2 linked regions of the Homo sapiens genome follow. The protein of the gene in region 2 interacts with the protein of the main gene of each other region in a pairwise test. Each region holds a gene or a part of one and is shown on either strand. Other genes may lie near its edges.

What was found. The genes of interacting proteins can lie anywhere in the genome.
Region 1: the proteins of METTL13 (region 2) and SNRPA interact in binary tests that used the Homo sapiens proteins (3 or more experiments, as listed by UniProt).

The regions. Positions count from the first base shown.
Region 1 is NC_000019.10:40,753,849-40,761,720, reverse strand, and holds part of SNRPA (U1 small nuclear ribonucleoprotein A), read right to left. Parts: intron 4,390-7,872; coding exon 4,217-4,389; intron 2,291-4,216; coding exon 2,111-2,290; intron 1-2,110. UniProt on the Homo sapiens protein: Component of the spliceosomal U1 snRNP, which is essential for recognition of the pre-mRNA 5' splice-site and the subsequent assembly of the spliceosome. U1 snRNP is the first snRNP to interact with pre-mRNA.
Region 2 is NC_000001.11:171,776,872-171,785,125, reverse strand, and holds the start of METTL13 (eEF1A lysine and N-terminal methyltransferase), read right to left. Parts: upstream 3,467-8,254; 5' UTR 3,159-3,466; coding exon 3,006-3,158; intron 1,387-3,005; coding exon 627-1,386; intron 1-626. UniProt on the Homo sapiens protein: Dual methyltransferase that catalyzes methylation of elongation factor 1-alpha (EEF1A1 and EEF1A2) at two different positions, and is therefore involved in the regulation of mRNA translation.

The sequences.
Region 1 (7,872 bases), on a different chromosome or scaffold from region 2:
GTGAGGAGGGCGGATCACTTGAGGTCAGGAGTTCGAGACCAGCCTGGCCAACATGGTGAAACCCCATCTCTACTAAAAATACAAAAATTAGCTGGGTGTGGTGGCACATGCCTGTAGTCCCAGATCCTCGGGAGGCAGGGGCAGGAGACTCGCTTGAACCCAGGAAGCGCAGGTTGCAGAGAGCTGAGATCACACCACTGCACTCCAGCCTGGACTACAGAGCGAGGCTCTGTCTCAAAAAAAAAAAAAAAAAAAAAAAAAAGAAAAAGAAAAAGAAAAGAAAAGAGAAAAGAAACTATATTTTGTGAGTTGTCACATTTGGATCTGCAATTCACTTCAAGTTATATTTTGCATATAGTATGAGGTAGGGCTAATTTTTTCCCCTTGCAGATACCCAACTGCCCCGCATCATGAACTAGGGGAAAAAAAGTCCTTTCCTCAGTGAAGTGCAGTGGTACCTCGATCACACATCAAGTAATTATACAAGTGTAGCTGTACCTAGACTCTTCATCCTGTCCCCTTGGTCTGTCTTCCTACCCTTCTGCCAACTGTATATCATCCTGGTTGGTTGCTGCAGGTTTTTTTTTTTTTTTTGCACATGGACGTGGTGGCATGTGCCTGTGATCCAGCTACTTGGGAGGCTGAGGCAGAAGATCACTTGAACTTGAGAGGCAGAGGTTGCAGTGAGCCGAGATTGCACGACTGCATTCCAGCCTGGGGAGACAGATTGACTGAGACTCCCTCCCGAAAAAAAACAAAAGAAAACAAAACAAAACAAAAAAGAGACAAGGTCTCACTCTGTTACCCAGGCTGGAGTGCAGTGACAAAACCACTGTTCACTGCAGCCTTGACCTCCAGTTCTCAAGCGATCCTCCCAGCTCAGCCTCCTGAGCAGCTGGGACTACAGGAATGAGTCACCACGCCCAGTTTTCTATTTTATTTTTTGTAGAGATGAGGTCTTGCTATTTTATAGAGGCTGGTCTTGAACTCCTGACCTAAAGCAATCCTCCTATCTTGGCCTCCCAAAGTGCTGGGATTACAGGCATGAGCCATTGGGCCTGGCCTGGTTGCTGGAGCTTCCCCTGGTCATGCAGGTCCTGGTGCTTTATTCTCCTCGCCTGGCTTGGCCTTGTCTTTCCACACATTTAGAAAGAGCCAATCAGTGTCCAGTGTTTACCGAAATTCCTGGTGGGATTTTGATTGCAATCACGTTGAATCTTCAATTAATTTGGATGGAACTGACCTCTTGACAATACTGAGTCTTCCTATCCATTGCTGAGTCTCTGATTTCTCCCAGCTACATTCTGTGATTTCAGTGTAGTCGTTCTGCAAACCTTTTGTTGGATTTACCCCTCAGTGCTACTTTTCAATGTGAAGTCTACTGGTCTGTTACTGGCATATAAAAATAAAACTGGGGGCCAGCCATGGTGGCTCATGCATGTAATCCTAGCACTTTGGGAGGCTGAGACAGTGAGTTTGAGACTAGCCTGGGTGATATGGCTAAGCCCCGTCTCTACAAAAAATGCAAAAGTTAGCTGGGTGGAGTGGCACGGACTGACAGTTCCAGCTGCTAGGGAGGCTGAGGCGTATCACTTGAGCCTGGGAGGCGGAGGTTGTAGTGAGCTGTGATGGCGCCACTGCACTCCAACCTGGGTGACAGTGAGACCCTGTCTCAAAACATAATATGAATAAATAAATAAAACTAATTTTTTTCCATATTGCCTTTATATCCAGCGATCTTTCTAAATTTAAGTTCACTTATTAATCCTAACAGTTGCTTAGTAGACACTTGGATTTTCTACATGCACAATGAGTTACAAGACACAGGCGACAAAATCAAGGCCACGGAGAGAGCGAAACCAAGTCATAGCCATGAAGAAAGACCTTGAGAAACAGTCACAAGGAGGGAACAAGAGTTTCGAAAGGAGATAGCATCATCTAGGTGCTCAATACCCCCCAAAAGAGAGAGAGAAACACATCTCTATAAAGAAATGGAAAGGAGGGGTCTGAAGCCCCAAGGGGAGAACTCTCCCCACCCTGTCCCAAAGCCAGTCCATGTGGCTGAGGAAGGTCTGGCAGTGGGAGGGTTGGTCTCCGGGACCTGGCTTACCGGGACAGGCCCCTGGACAGCCCCCACCACGGGGGTGGCTCCCCCGCCTTGCACAGCCTTCTTGGTGGCCGGGGTCTCCTGGCTCTTGGGCTTCCTCTTCTCCCGCTTGCGGTCCCGCTCCACGAAGGTGCCTTTCATCTTGGCAATGATATCTGAGTCGGTCTTGGCATACTGGATACGCTACCAAACAGAGAGCAGAACGGGTTAAGAGCGTGGATTCAGAGCCCAATTGCCAAGATTCAAAATTGGACCTTTATCAGGGGCCAGGTGCTGCGGCTCATGCCTGTAATCCCAGCCCTTTGGGAGGCTAAAGCGAGCAGATCACTTGAGGCCAGGAGGTGGAGACCAGCTTGGCCAACATGGCAAAACCCCATTTCTTTGTTTCTTTTCTTTTTTTTTTTTTTTTGAGACATTGTCTTGCTCTGTCACCCAGGCTAGAGTGCAGTGATGAGATCTCAGCTGACTGCAACCTCTGCCTCCCGGGTTCAAGCAATTCTGCCTCAGCCTCCCTACTAGCTGGGATTACAGGCGCCCACCACCACGCCTGGCTAATTTTTGTGCTTTTAGTAGAGACAGGGTTTCACCATGTTGGCCAGGCTGGTCTCGAACTCCTGACCTCAGGTGATCCACCCACCTCGGCCTCCGAAAGTGCTGGGATTACAGGCATGAGCCACTGCGCCTGGCCAGGAAACCCCATTTCTACCAAAAATACAAAAATTAGCTGGGCATGGTGGTGCGCACCTGTAGTCCCAGCTACTCAAGAGGCTGAGGCAGAAGAATCGCTTGAACCCAGGAGGCGAAGGTTGCAGTCAGCTGAGATGGCACCACTGCACTCCAGCCCAGGCAACAGAGCAAAAAACAAAAAACAAAAAACAAACAAACAAAAAAAAATTCAGACCTTATCAGGAGCTTACTGAGAAACACAGAAATATCTTGGCCTTAACTTCCTTGTCTGAAAAATGGGGATTATGATACTTCCCACTTCAAAGGACTGTTGTGAGGACTAAATGAGTTAAAGTGCTTGGAACAGTACCTGACACACAGTAAGCAAGTGTTCAGTAGAAAGGCTGTTGGTATTTTTAAGGGAAGCTGGAACAGCAATAAACATCAGGCCAAAGGACCGAGGAGACAATGCTAGGAGAGGAGTGCAGTGCAGGGGGATTTCCTGTCACACAAGAATACTTCAGTCTTCCAGGTTCAATCTCACTCACTTAGCTGTTTAAGGAGAACCTGCCAGATGCCAGGCGCCATTCAAGGCTCTGGGAATAAAGCAATGAACAAAATAGACAAAAACCCCTCTTTCATGGTGCTTATTCAGTAGGGGAAGGTATGTTAAAGATTCTTAGTGTGGCACAGTAGCTCACGCCTGTAATCCTAGCACTTTGGGAGGCTGAGGCAGGCAGATCACTTGAGCTCAGGAGTTTGAGACCAGCCTGGGCAACATGGCGAAACCCCGTCTCTACTAAAAATAAAAAAATCAGCCAGGTATGGTGGCACGTGCCTGTAATCCCAGCTACTCAGGAGGCTGAGGCAGGAGAATCACTTGAACCCGGGAGGTGGAGGTTGCAGTGAGCCAAGATTGCACCACTGCACTCCAGCCTGGGCAACAGAGGAAGATTCTGTCTCAAAATAATTTATTTATTTATTTATTTATTTATTTATTTTTTCTGAGACAGAGTCTCACTCTGTTGCCTAGGCTGGAGTGCAGTGGCAGGATCTCGGCTCACTGCAATCTCTGCCTCCCGGGTTCAAGCAATTCTCCTTCCTCAGCCACAGGAGTAGCTGGGACTACAGGTGCATGCTGCCACACCGAGCTAATTTTTGTATTTTAGTAGAGACAGGGTTTCACGGTGTTGCCCAGGCTGGCTGCAAACTCCTGAGCTCAGGTAATCCACCTGCCTCGGCCTCCCAAAGTGCCAGGATTACAGACGTGAGCCACCGCCCTCGGCCAAAGAAAAGATTTTTAAATGAGGCAAGGTGCAGTGGGAGCCTGGTCCAGCCTCACCTTGGCAAATGAACCGTAATATCCCCTCCTCTAATCCAGGCCCGCCCAGTCTCCTATAACATTTTACACACCCACACAGCCTCCGTACCCGCAATGCTCACCATAGGTTTGTCATAGAAAGGGAAACCCTGCATGGAGCGCAGGGCGTTGGTGGCGCTGCTGACCTCCTTGAAGATGACAAAGGCCTGGCCCCTCATCTTCAGGCTCCGTGATACCAGGATATCCAGGATCTGGCCAAACTGGGAGAAGATGGCGTACAGGGACTTTTTTAGCTCTGCAGTGGGGGAAAAAAAGACCTTTGAGCTCCCCTTTTTAGAAGAAGCGCAGCCCAAATAGAAGACCATCAGCCAATTGATGGGGTACCCAGAATGCCTCGGGTCCATAATCTCTCAAGACCTAACAATCACAGAAGCAGCCAGGAACCACTCAAGTGGCCAAGTACACTCTTCTACTCTTCTGTAAGATGTGCTTACAGAGAGCTGCTATATAATGAACATGTGCACATACATGCAAAGTGCTCAGGACAGCATCCGGCACGTAGTAAACACTCGATAAATGAGTGATTCTTTTCACTGCCACCAGCACCCTGACATGGGCCTGCATGACGTGGCCCTGGCAGATTTCCCCCACCTCATCCCTGCCCACATTCCACCGCCCTCCTGAGTTCCCAACCACACTGGCCCCCAGGTCTGACACACCAATTTTGCCCCAGGGCCTTTGAACTGGCTGCTCTCTTTACCTGGAACATCCCTCCCCTGAGGTTTACATGGTGGCCTCCTTCTAGTCACCCAGTCTCAGAGGAAATGTTGCCACCTCTGACCACGACGTCTAAATTTCTTCCCATGTCATTCTTACTCTACTTCCTTTTCTTTCATGACTATTTCCCACCTCCTGTCATGGTACGTTAACTTGTCTATCTTGCCTGAGGAGCTATAAGCCTGTCCCATTTGTTTACTGCAGTATGCCAAGCCTAGCACAGACTCCACCACAATTTTTTTTTTTTTTTTTTGGTGACAAGGTCTCACTTTGTCACCCAGGCTGGAGTGCAGTGGCATGATCATGGCTCACCGTAGCCTCAACCTCCCGGACTCAAGCGGTCCTCCCACTTCAGCCTATGGAGTAGCTGGGACCACAGGTGTATGCCACCATGCCCAGCTAATTTCTGGATTTTGTGCAGAGACAGGGTCTTGCTATGTTGCCCAGGCTGGTCTTGAACTCCTGAGCTTCAGCAATTAGCCCACCTTGGCCTCCGAAAGTGCTGGGATTACAGGAGTGTGCCACCACACCTGGCTGCAAACATTTGACTAGATACCATCAAGTGCCTTTTTTTTTTTTTAAAGACAGAATCTCCTTCTACTGCTCAGGGTGGAGTTCAGTGGCATGATGGTAGCTTACTACAGGCCTGACCTCCCAGGCTCAAGCAATCTTCCCACCACAGCCTCCCAAGGAGCTGGGACCATAGGCACGCAGCACGACGCACGGCTAATTTTTTATTTTTTGTAGACACAGTCTCCTATGTTGGCCAGGTTGGTCTTGAACTCCTGGGCTCCAGTGATCCTCCTGCCTTGGCTTCCCCAAAGTGCTGGGATTACAGGCATGAGTCATCGCACCCCCATCAAATGCTTTATGGAGGTAACTTCACTTCCTCACAACAAACCCATTAGGTGGCAACTATGACTGTCCCAATTTTACTGGAAACAGGTTCTCAGAGGATTCCTCACTGGCCCAGGGCATCAATCTGGAGGGCATAAGGAAGCGTATGGCAGAGCCCAGTCCACGTATTCCATCTGAACCCGGTACCACCACATCTCACCAGCAAAGGGCATCACTTGACAGCAAGTGAGATTCAAGCTCAACAAGGATGGACTCCCTCTCACCACCCAGGTCTGCAAAGGGCACCAATGTCTTATGCAAAGAAGATGGCTGAGATGGCCAAGCATGGTGGCTCACACCTGTAATCCCAGCACTCTGGGAGGCCGAGGTGGGCAGATCCTTTGCACTCAAGAGTTCAAGACCAGTCTGGGCAATAGGGTGAAACCCTGTCTCTACAAAAGATACAAAAATTAGCCAGGCATAGTGGTGCATGCCTTGTGGTCATAGCTACTTGGGAGGCTGAAGTGGGAGGATCACTCTAGCCTGGGAGGCAGAGGTTGCAGTGAGCCATGACCTCACCACTGGACTCCAACCTTCATAAAAACTGGCCAGGCATGGTGGCTCATGCCTATAATTCCAGCACTTTGGGAGGCTGAGGCAGATCACGTGAGGTCAGGAGTTCAAGACCAGCCTGGCCAAGACGGTGAAACCCCGTCTTGACTAAAAATGCCAAAAAAAAAAAAAAAAAAAAAAAAGAAAAGAAAAAAAATTAGCTAGGCGTGGTGGAGGGCGCTTGTAATCCCAGCTACTGGGGAGGCTGAGGCATGAGAATAGCTTGAACCAGAGAGGCAAAAGTTACAGTGAGCAGAGATTGCGCCACTGCACTCCAGCCTGGGTGACAAATCGAAACTCCATCTCAAAAAAAAAAGCTAAGCTGAAGCAGAAGCCACTTGTAAAATAGATACCAGGCTAGGAAAGAAGCAAGAAAATGTGTAGGCTGGGTGGGGGCAGGGACAGCAGTCAAGGTTGTTTTTAAGCAATTAGTCAAAAATTCTCCTGGTGGTGACATTTCTGGTTTTCCTCTCCGTACTCCATCCCCATGAATCTTGCTCAGACTTCACTCATTCCACGGGACTCTGGGCCTCTCTCTACTCTCCAGCCTCCCCTCGCCCATTCGCATTTACCCTCCACAGCTGGGAGGATATTCCACCAGGGAGGCAGCCAGGACAGGGAAGCAGTCTGGCTCCCCAACACCCTCAGGGCAAAGTCCAACACCTCACAGCCATGAGCCACCAGTGCACAGCTCACTGGAAGTTTCCCCATGATTTACAAGCCTCAAAACTACTTGTAATACTCAGAATACGCCAGGCTCTTTTGACCCTAAACATCTGAACAAGCTGGACCAAGTTAAGAATGCTCTTCTCCCTCAGTGTAACATAAATACTGCTTACTGTACCTGGCAGGCTCTCCAAAATGTCTCCTTTTCCTGGAAGCTGAATGGATCTCTCTGTCTTTCTAAGTTCCCAATCCCAGCCCTCAACACTCTGCCTAAGCTTCCTGCCTGATGGCCCTGACTACTCTGGGCTGTCACTGTCCTAAAGAACCAGGGTTCTGGCCGGGTGCGGTGGTTCACACCTGTAATCCCAGCACTTTGGGAGGCCGAGGCGGGTGGATCACAGTTCAGGAGTTCGAGACCAGCATAGCCAAGATGGTGAAACCCCGTCTCTACTAAAAATACAAAAATTAGCCAAGCGTGGTAGCAGGTGCTTGGAATCCCAGCTACTCAGGAGGCTGAGGCAGAGAATCACTTGAATTCGGGAGGCGGAGGTTGCAGTGAGCTGAGATCGCACCACTGCATTCCAGCCTGGGCAACAGAGCGACACTCCGTCTCATCTCAAAAAAAAAAAAAAAACGCCGGGCGCTGGGGCTGACGCCTGTAATCCCAGCACTTTTGGAGGCCAAGGTGGGCAGATCACGAGGTCAGGAAATCAACACCATCCTGGCTAACATGGTTAAACCCCTTCTCTACTAAATATACAAAAAATTAGCCGGGTGTGCTGGTGGGCGCCTGTAGTCCCAGCTACTCGGGAGGCTGAGGCAGGAGAATGGCGTGAACCCAGGAGGCAAGGCAGAGCTTGCAGTGAGCAGAGATGGTGCCACTGCA
Region 2 (8,254 bases):
AGAGCTTTTATACTTCTCACAACTACACCAGAGTTACAATCCCATCAAGGCAGAGAAAGAAAAGTAACCTGTCTAATGTCACACCATCAGGAAATGACTGAGCCAAAACTGAAACCCAAACAGTCTGGTTCCAGAGCTCACTTTTTTAGCTGCTACCCTATGCTGCCTCTCCAAATTTTGCAGAGAAGCACAGCAACTTCCCCAGGTCCTGCAGCTCACAGGCTACAGCTGGGACTAGAACCTATGTCTTAGACTTGCTAGTCCAGCATTACTTCCATTACTCCATGCTACAAAGTAACTAGCATCTCTATATCATATGTGACCTCCTAAATTTATCTCTATTCTCTCTCTTCCCTACCAACCCCATTCTCACACTTCATCAAGCCTTTGCAATGGCAGATGAAAAGGAATAGGTCTCAACTCCAAGTAGGTTGCTAGAGAGCTATTACTCTCCTTTCATCATGCCTTGGGTAGTCTAATCCTCTGGAAGTACAAACCCCTGCAAGACAAAAAACAGTCCAGAATCCCACCAAAGCCCCAGCCCAGCCTCAGCCCCAGCCCCAGCCCAAGCCCCAGCCCCTGTAAGCCAGCCCCTCCAGGGAAGAGAGGGAGCAATCCCAACTCACTGATGAAAATCGCAAAATGATTGTCCCGCGATGGTTTCACAGTGGGGCTGTCCACCACGTGGAGGGTGTAGCGTGGCTCCCCCGTGTCCCCATCGCACAAGTCCAGAGACACACTCCCCAGCCTGGCCTTGCGGCGCAGCTGGCTGCACAGCCAGGCATACTGCTGTCGCTCCTGCACCGCCTCGGCCAGCCGCTCGGCACTCTCCAGCCGCACAGGCTTGCGCTGCTCCTGAGCACACAGCTCAAAGATCTGAAGGGCAGAGCCAGGGACTGGCCTGAACTTGGTCATGATGAAGGCAAAGACAGGCAAGGAGAACTGAGGCTCTGCTTCCAACACCTGGTCCTGGCTGTTGGCCACTTGGTGCACCCTCACCATCCACCCCTCCCGGGAGAAGTGGCCCACTGCTTTCTTCAGGATGTGAGCCTGAGCCAGGGAGATGCAGAGATAGCGACCGCCCACCTGCAGGACACGGCCAACCTCAGCCAGCATCCTGTCCACCTGTTGTAAGGTCTTCTCTTCCTCATCTGTCAGGACAGCATCCAGGGTGCCCTTGTCCAACACCACCTGGAACGAGGCATCAGGAAACTCCATCTGCGTCATGTCCATCTTCAAGAAGCTCATCTGGGGCCGTCGGGTGGCATTACATTCCTTCATTTGCTTGATGACAACCTCACTGATGTCGATGTTCACTATATCCCGATAGCCCACATCATACAGTTGCTCACTCAGTTCTGAGTTGCCACACCCAATCACCAGCACCTGGAGAAAAAATTCACAGACAAGAGGGAGGTAATCAAAGCAAAGGACTGTACTTCAGGTACTTCAAGGAATCAAGTCTCACCTTGGCTGAGTCACATTTTCAGAAGGTGGAGACGCTACTGCCAGAGAAAGAGCGACATTGTAGAGTTGATGCTAGACTCTATCTTGAAACACCACATATACTTGCTAGTGAAAACCACATTCAGCTACAATACAGGTTATATGAGAATGGGCTTTGTGTTGCAGAAACAAATTAATCATAACTGTTCTTTTCTCTAAATCATGCACTTATTACTCAGGAATTAATAGGAAGTCAGAGAATCCAAATATAGAGTTACAGTTGAAATCCTAGGCCAGGAATAACCCTATTTCCTCACTCTACTCATGCCTTTGGCTCCTTTAGACAATAAAGTACACTTTGTGAGGATTCAAATCTTACTTCCATCACGGATTCCATCTCATGATATTTGGCTATCTTCTGAAGCCGAACTTAAAATTCAGATTGTTGTCTCCCTCTCCAGGGAGCAATCTCCCATTCAAACTTAGAAATTCTGATATTGCCATCTTTGGAAAAGCATGGTACAAAGAGATGTGCATATGCTCTGGAGCCAGACAGGCCTGAGTTTAAATCCCCACATGACCACCTGGACATGATCTTGGGCAAAAAAAAAAAAAAAAGTGGCTCTCGGGGCCTCAGTTTCCTCATCTGTAAAATGTATGCATGGCCACTCACCTGAATTTATGATGAGAATTCAAAGATTGCACATGCACATACACAGCACCCAACATAAGGCTTGGCACATAAAGCTTCCCCACAAATGTTAAGTTTTCTACCTTCCTCCTTCCCTACCTCCAGTACAATCTCACCTATACCAAACCCATTGTTGTACTTATCACGTTTCACTTCTGGAACATGTGCAGGGTTTACGTCTTAATGCTCTTATAGTTTAAGGACTGAGCAGTGCCTGAAACTTGGGGCGCACTCAACGACTATTTGAAAAACAAATTCATACACAAAGTCACACCTGCTGCAGGTTGCACAGGAATGCACAGTGACAGAAGAACATACTTTCAAGATGGGAAGTCACTCTTCAAGTAGGGTTATTAATCCAAGAATGAGCTGGGGTGGGAGGTCTATTATCTGAAAACCTTTAAAGAAATGTTTTTTTTTTTAGACAGGGTCTCACTCTGTCACCCAGGCTGGAGTGCAGTGGCGTGATCATGGCTCACTGCAGCCTCGACCTCCTGGGCTCAAGCGATCCTCCCGCCTAAGCCTCCCGAGTAGCTGGAAATACAGATGCGCGCCACCACGCCCGGCTAATTTTTTCATTTTTTGTAGAGACGAGGTCTCATGTTCCCCAGGCTGGTCTTTAACTCCAGGGCTCAAGCGATCCTCCCACCTCGGTCTCCCAAAGTGTTCGGATTACAGGTGTGAGCCACTGCGCCCGGCCTGAAAGAATATTCTAGTTTGTCTTTTAGCAGGAACAATGCAGGAAATGCTGAAATATGCGTCCAACTAGGGTCCTCCCGCCTGTCACTGTCCACCAAGTGCAAGATTCCTGTTACCAGTTCCCACCTTCCGGAGCACGTACGAAGGGCTACCAACCCGCGCTCCTCACCTTTTCCCTGGGCTTGATATATTTATGTAGCACCCCGCACAGTTCCAGGTAGGTTCCATACCACTCGAAAGCTTTCTTTCCTCGCTGCTGGAAGAACTTCTCCCAATAGTCAACGGAGCCAAACTCCCTGGAACTTTTAGGTAAGAGGTTCATGTTCCTACTGCCGAAGCTGCGTTTTCAAGACTCCCCTATTCCCTGTGAGATACCATTTGAGGAGCTTGCCCACCACACGCAGGCTCCGGGACACTGCAGTGGGAATTCTTTCCACGGAAAAACAGCCACATTGATTTGTTCCCCCACTCCAAACCCCAGGAATGACCCTTACACGACAAACGCACGCATGGACCACTGAATCTCACACACGCTTGCCCCCTCCTCCGCGCCTGCTGTTCCTTCCCCACGTGAAGAGCCCCTCACACTTTTCCCGAACTAGATTTCCGAGCCCATAACCATATCCGGGTGCGAAGCCTCGTGATTCGTCGGCCGGCCCAGCCCAACTCAGCTAGTCATTGGTCGCTGCTTTGCGTTTCTATCACCTCATTGGCTGCGACGTGCTTGCCTTTCTCCGGAGGCTCCGTCGCAGACACCTAAACGCTTTTTTGACCTGAGGCCGGCCGACCATTCACGGAACGGGGCGGGACCGCGGGCCGGAGTTGTGGCGGAAGAGGCCGGGCCTCTGTGAGAACTAGGTCACGTCCGGGTGAGGAGTGAGCGCGGCTGTGCTGTGGTTGGGCCCTCCCTCCAGGCGGGGCGGAGAGCGCGCTTGCTTCCTGGGCTCGGCCTCCGCTTTGTCTTGGAGCCGGCTTAATCACTGACTCCGATCGTGCGCCGCACAAGGGCGGAGCGCGGCAGGCGGGAGCGTACTGGTAGAGGAGGACGAAAAGAAAAACCTATACAGATAGGAGAGAAGTGAGGCAGGAAATGAGTAAAGCCAGTCCGTCGTAAAAACGCTGCACATTCTAACCTTGTCAGCTTCTGCGCACCAGCACCCCCCGCCTTATTTTGCCACCTCTGCACCAAAATATAGGATTCTGCTATCAAAAGTGTAATAACATGAAAACTCCCTCTTCCTTCTCTCCGCAAAGCACAGCATGCAAAACTAGCCTTTCATTTTGATAATTGGCCTCCTTGTGTTATTCTGACGTTATTTATAACTGCTTATTTTATGTGTTTGATAAACATACTGTACTTTCACATGCTCATGCTAATACCCTGAGGAAGCTTCTGTGAAGGGCACTTTTTTTTCAGACAGGGTCTGTCTCTGTCGCCCAGACTGGAGTGCAGTGGTGCAGTCATGGCTCACTGCAGTCTCCACTTTCCAGGGGTCAGGGGATCCTCCCACCTCAGCCTCCCAAGTAGCACGCCACTACCGCTGGCTAATTTTTTTTTTTTTTTTGTAGAAATGGGGTTTCGCCATGTTGTCCGGGCTGTTCTCAAACTCCTGAGCTCAAATGATCATCTCGCCTCACCCTACCAAAGTGCTGGGATGACTGGTGTGAGCCACTATGCTGGCAGGCACTATTTGAAAATGACCAAATATGTGTATCACTGGGCCTTTCATACCATGATAAATTGCAGGAGGAATATACTGATTGCGGAGAGCAGATAGGCTTGGAATTGAGCATGTGTGCTGTGGGCTGTTACATACTACACTACCACAGGTAGATAGCCAGGTAGACTGTTAATAGTTAAGTAGGTTAGATTGGACTTAAACATTGGTTTAAAAAAGTGATTCTCAAACTGGCATGCGTCAGAATCACCTGGAGGACTTGTTAAAACACAGAATTCCCCAGTCCAACCCCTGTTCTAAGTCATTAGTTCAGTGGTGAGGCCCAAGGATTTGTGTTTCTAACAAGTTCCCACGATGCTGATGATGTTGGTCCCGGAACCACACTTTTTTGAGAACCACTGTTTTAAAATACAATTAAGTCAAAATGGATATGGTTCAAAATTCGCAATTTTCAATGATAAATCTAAAAGCTTTCTACAAGTAACATAAGAGAAAATCTGTTTTCATGATCCCTTTGCTGAGTTCACATTGTTCCTCTCTACCCAAGATAAAGAGAAGGAGTCCTTGAAGTAGTAACTTCAGCTACTACACCATGCAAGGTTCTGAATGGGTGAAATGTGAGTTCTTTAGGAAGCACTTATTGAGAGCGGAGGACATCACTTGTACTGAATGTGCTACACGATACCAAAGAAGCAAAACAGCATAGCAGCCAGGCGCGGTGGCTCACGCCTGTAATCCTACCACTTTGGTAGGCCGAGGCGGGCGGATCACTTGAGATCAGGAGTTTGAGATCAGCCTGGCCAACATGGTGAAACCATGTCTCTAATAAAAATACAAAAATTAGCCGAGCGTGGTTGTGTGTGCCTGTGGTCCCAGCTACTCAGGAGGCTGAGGCAGGAGAATCGCTTGAACCCGGGAGGCGGAGGTTGCAGTGAGCCAAGAGATTGCGCCACCGCACTCCATCCTGGCCAACAGAAGGAGACTCCCTCTCAAAAACGACAACAACAAAAACAAACAAAAACCATAGCAGCTGCTCTGTGCCCCCCAAAGCTTTATTCAATTCAGTTCAACAAATATTTTAATTGTCTAATAGGGGCCAATCACTGTGGTAGAAGCTAAGGATGCAGTGGTAAGCATGGTAATCACGTGGAGGGCACATTAAACAATTACAAAAATAGTCTGTAATGGGAGTTATAAGTGCTGTGAAGGAGAACCATACCATTCCATGATAGTATATCTTTGTGACCTCTACTGATCTAAGGGGTAACCAGAGAAGGCTTCCCTGAGGAAGGGACAAAAATACTATATAATCTGACTGCTTAATATCAGCATGACATAGGTGAAAAACCAAAAAGCATGGTTCACCTTCTGGAACCTTTACAAGAATTTCTGGCTGCTGCTTTTCCCTCTGTCTCCATTGTCTGTTCTGTTAAGGTCATGTTATTAGAAAAGACGAAGTTATTTCTATCACAGCCCAGGCTCCAGCCCCGTATTTGATGCTCTAAAAGTATGATTACTGTTTGCAGTGTTTTTCAGACCAAAAGGGTAAGTAACTTACGTTTTTCCATCTGTGCCTGCCTCCCTTCTGTGAGCCTAAAAAAGTGATAACAACCAGAACATTTTAAGCTTAAACATACTAGAGATTTTCTAAAATTGTAAGATTAACACAGAAATATTTTAGATATATTGTAACATTAGACCCTAGCATTAACCTTTCAAAATACTTATTTGAAGCTTATTTCTCTCAAGATTTAACTATGAAATATAATTGATAGGTATGTGTTATCATTAGTATACTTAGTTAATTTAAACCAATAAGATGTTAAAATGCTTTGTGTTTTATTAGGATCCCCAGAGTGGTTAAAAATATGATTTAAAATGCAAGCTAAATTTAGATAAAGCCATTCAGTATTGTGGAGTTTTTTCCTAAAAATATAAATCCAGACCTCTGGATATATAATTTACAGTCAAACTTACTTAATTGAAACATTCTCATAATTGTGGTAATATTCAATTGATTGTTACTACGATTAATTGTAAAATAATAAAGAGGGAATAAAAAGCATCTCTGACAATTTGGGAGGCAGAGGATGAGAGAGGCAAAATAATGCTCCCCTAAAGATGTCTACCTCCTAATCCCCTGAACCGAAACTGTGAAGGTAACAGGTTACAAGGCAAAGAAGAATTAAGGTTGTAGATGCAATTAAGGATGCTAATCAGCTGACATAGCAAGATTATCTAACTGAGCTCAATGTAATCACAGGGTCCTTTTTCATTTTCTTTCTTTTTTTTTTTTTTTTTTTTTGAGACGGAGTCTTACTCTGTTGCCCAGTCTGGAGTGCAGTGGCACGATCTTGGCTCACTGCAACCTCCGCCTCCCAGGTTCAAGCAATTCTCCTGCCTCAGCCTCTTGAGTAGCTACGGATTACAGGCGTGCACACACCCAGCTGATTTTTGTATTTTTAGTAGTCTCACCATGTTGGCCAGGCTGGGCCACAAGGGTCTTTTAAAGTAGAAGAGGGAGAGACAGAAGGGCTTGGCCCAATGTTTCTGGCTTTGAAGATGAAGGAAAGCAGCCATGAACCAAGGAAAGGCGGTGACCTCTAGAACCTGGAAAAGGAAAAGAAATGAATTCTCCTGTAGAGCCTCCAGAAGAAATACGGCCCTATTGACACCTTGATTTTAATTTATTGAGACTTGTCAGACTTCTGACTGATCCAACTGTAAGATAATAAATTTGTATTGCATATAGTACTAGTTTTTGGTAATTTGTTACAGTAGTGATAGGAAACTAATACGGAACATAAACAGAAGAGAGAAAGAGAGAGAGAGAGTATGTGTGGTTGGGGCAGAAGGTCACAGTGGGGAGAAAGCAGCAGAAGATACAACTAGAGGCTGAGGTAAAGGGCAGGTTTTGAGGAGTCTTCTATTCCACATATTTAGCTTCAGCCTGTCAGGCCACAGGAAGTCAACAGAGAAGCAGAGTCATGACAGAAAGACCTGATCTGAGAGATGTTCTCAGGAAAGACTGAGGCACTTGATGACTGATTGAATAGGGGGAATAAAAGACTGAGGGACTCATAAATGACTCCTACATCGGCCTCTGGATGACTGAAGAAATAGTCTGTAGAAAGAAACGGGGAAGGAGAAAGGGGTATTATTTGTAGAACTGTTGCTAGAAAAGAATTTAGAGGTTATCACTCCAGTAAAAACCAGAGCCAGAGCTAAAAGCCAGTCTCCCCACCCTGCATGCCTACCCCAGGGCTCATACCCTTCTCACTTCCTGTCAGTGGTATCCAGTTGGAGTTGGTAGGTCCAACACATGAAAATGTTTCACGAGTGGGATATAAAATTAAGTAAAGGGAATGTCTCTTTGGTGTACAGGGAGTGGCTCATATAATGCTGGAAACTATTTCAAATTGGAAATCATCTTAGCAAATGGGTTTGTTTTCCACATTTGAGAAGTTTAAAAATGAATGTTCTCCTGTATCTTGGGATAATAGAAGGCAGACACAATAACATCCTAGGGTAACATTCTGCCATTTTATTAGCTGAGTGTCAACACTTTTCTTGACGATATTGTTGACCTGAAAAGTGACTATCAAGCTGATATTGGATTCCTAAGATTGGGATGATGATAATAGCTACTTATTTATTTATTTATTTGTTTGTTTGTTTGTTTATATAAGACAGGGTCTCACTGTGTCACCCAGGCTGGAGTGCAGTGGTGCAGTCACAG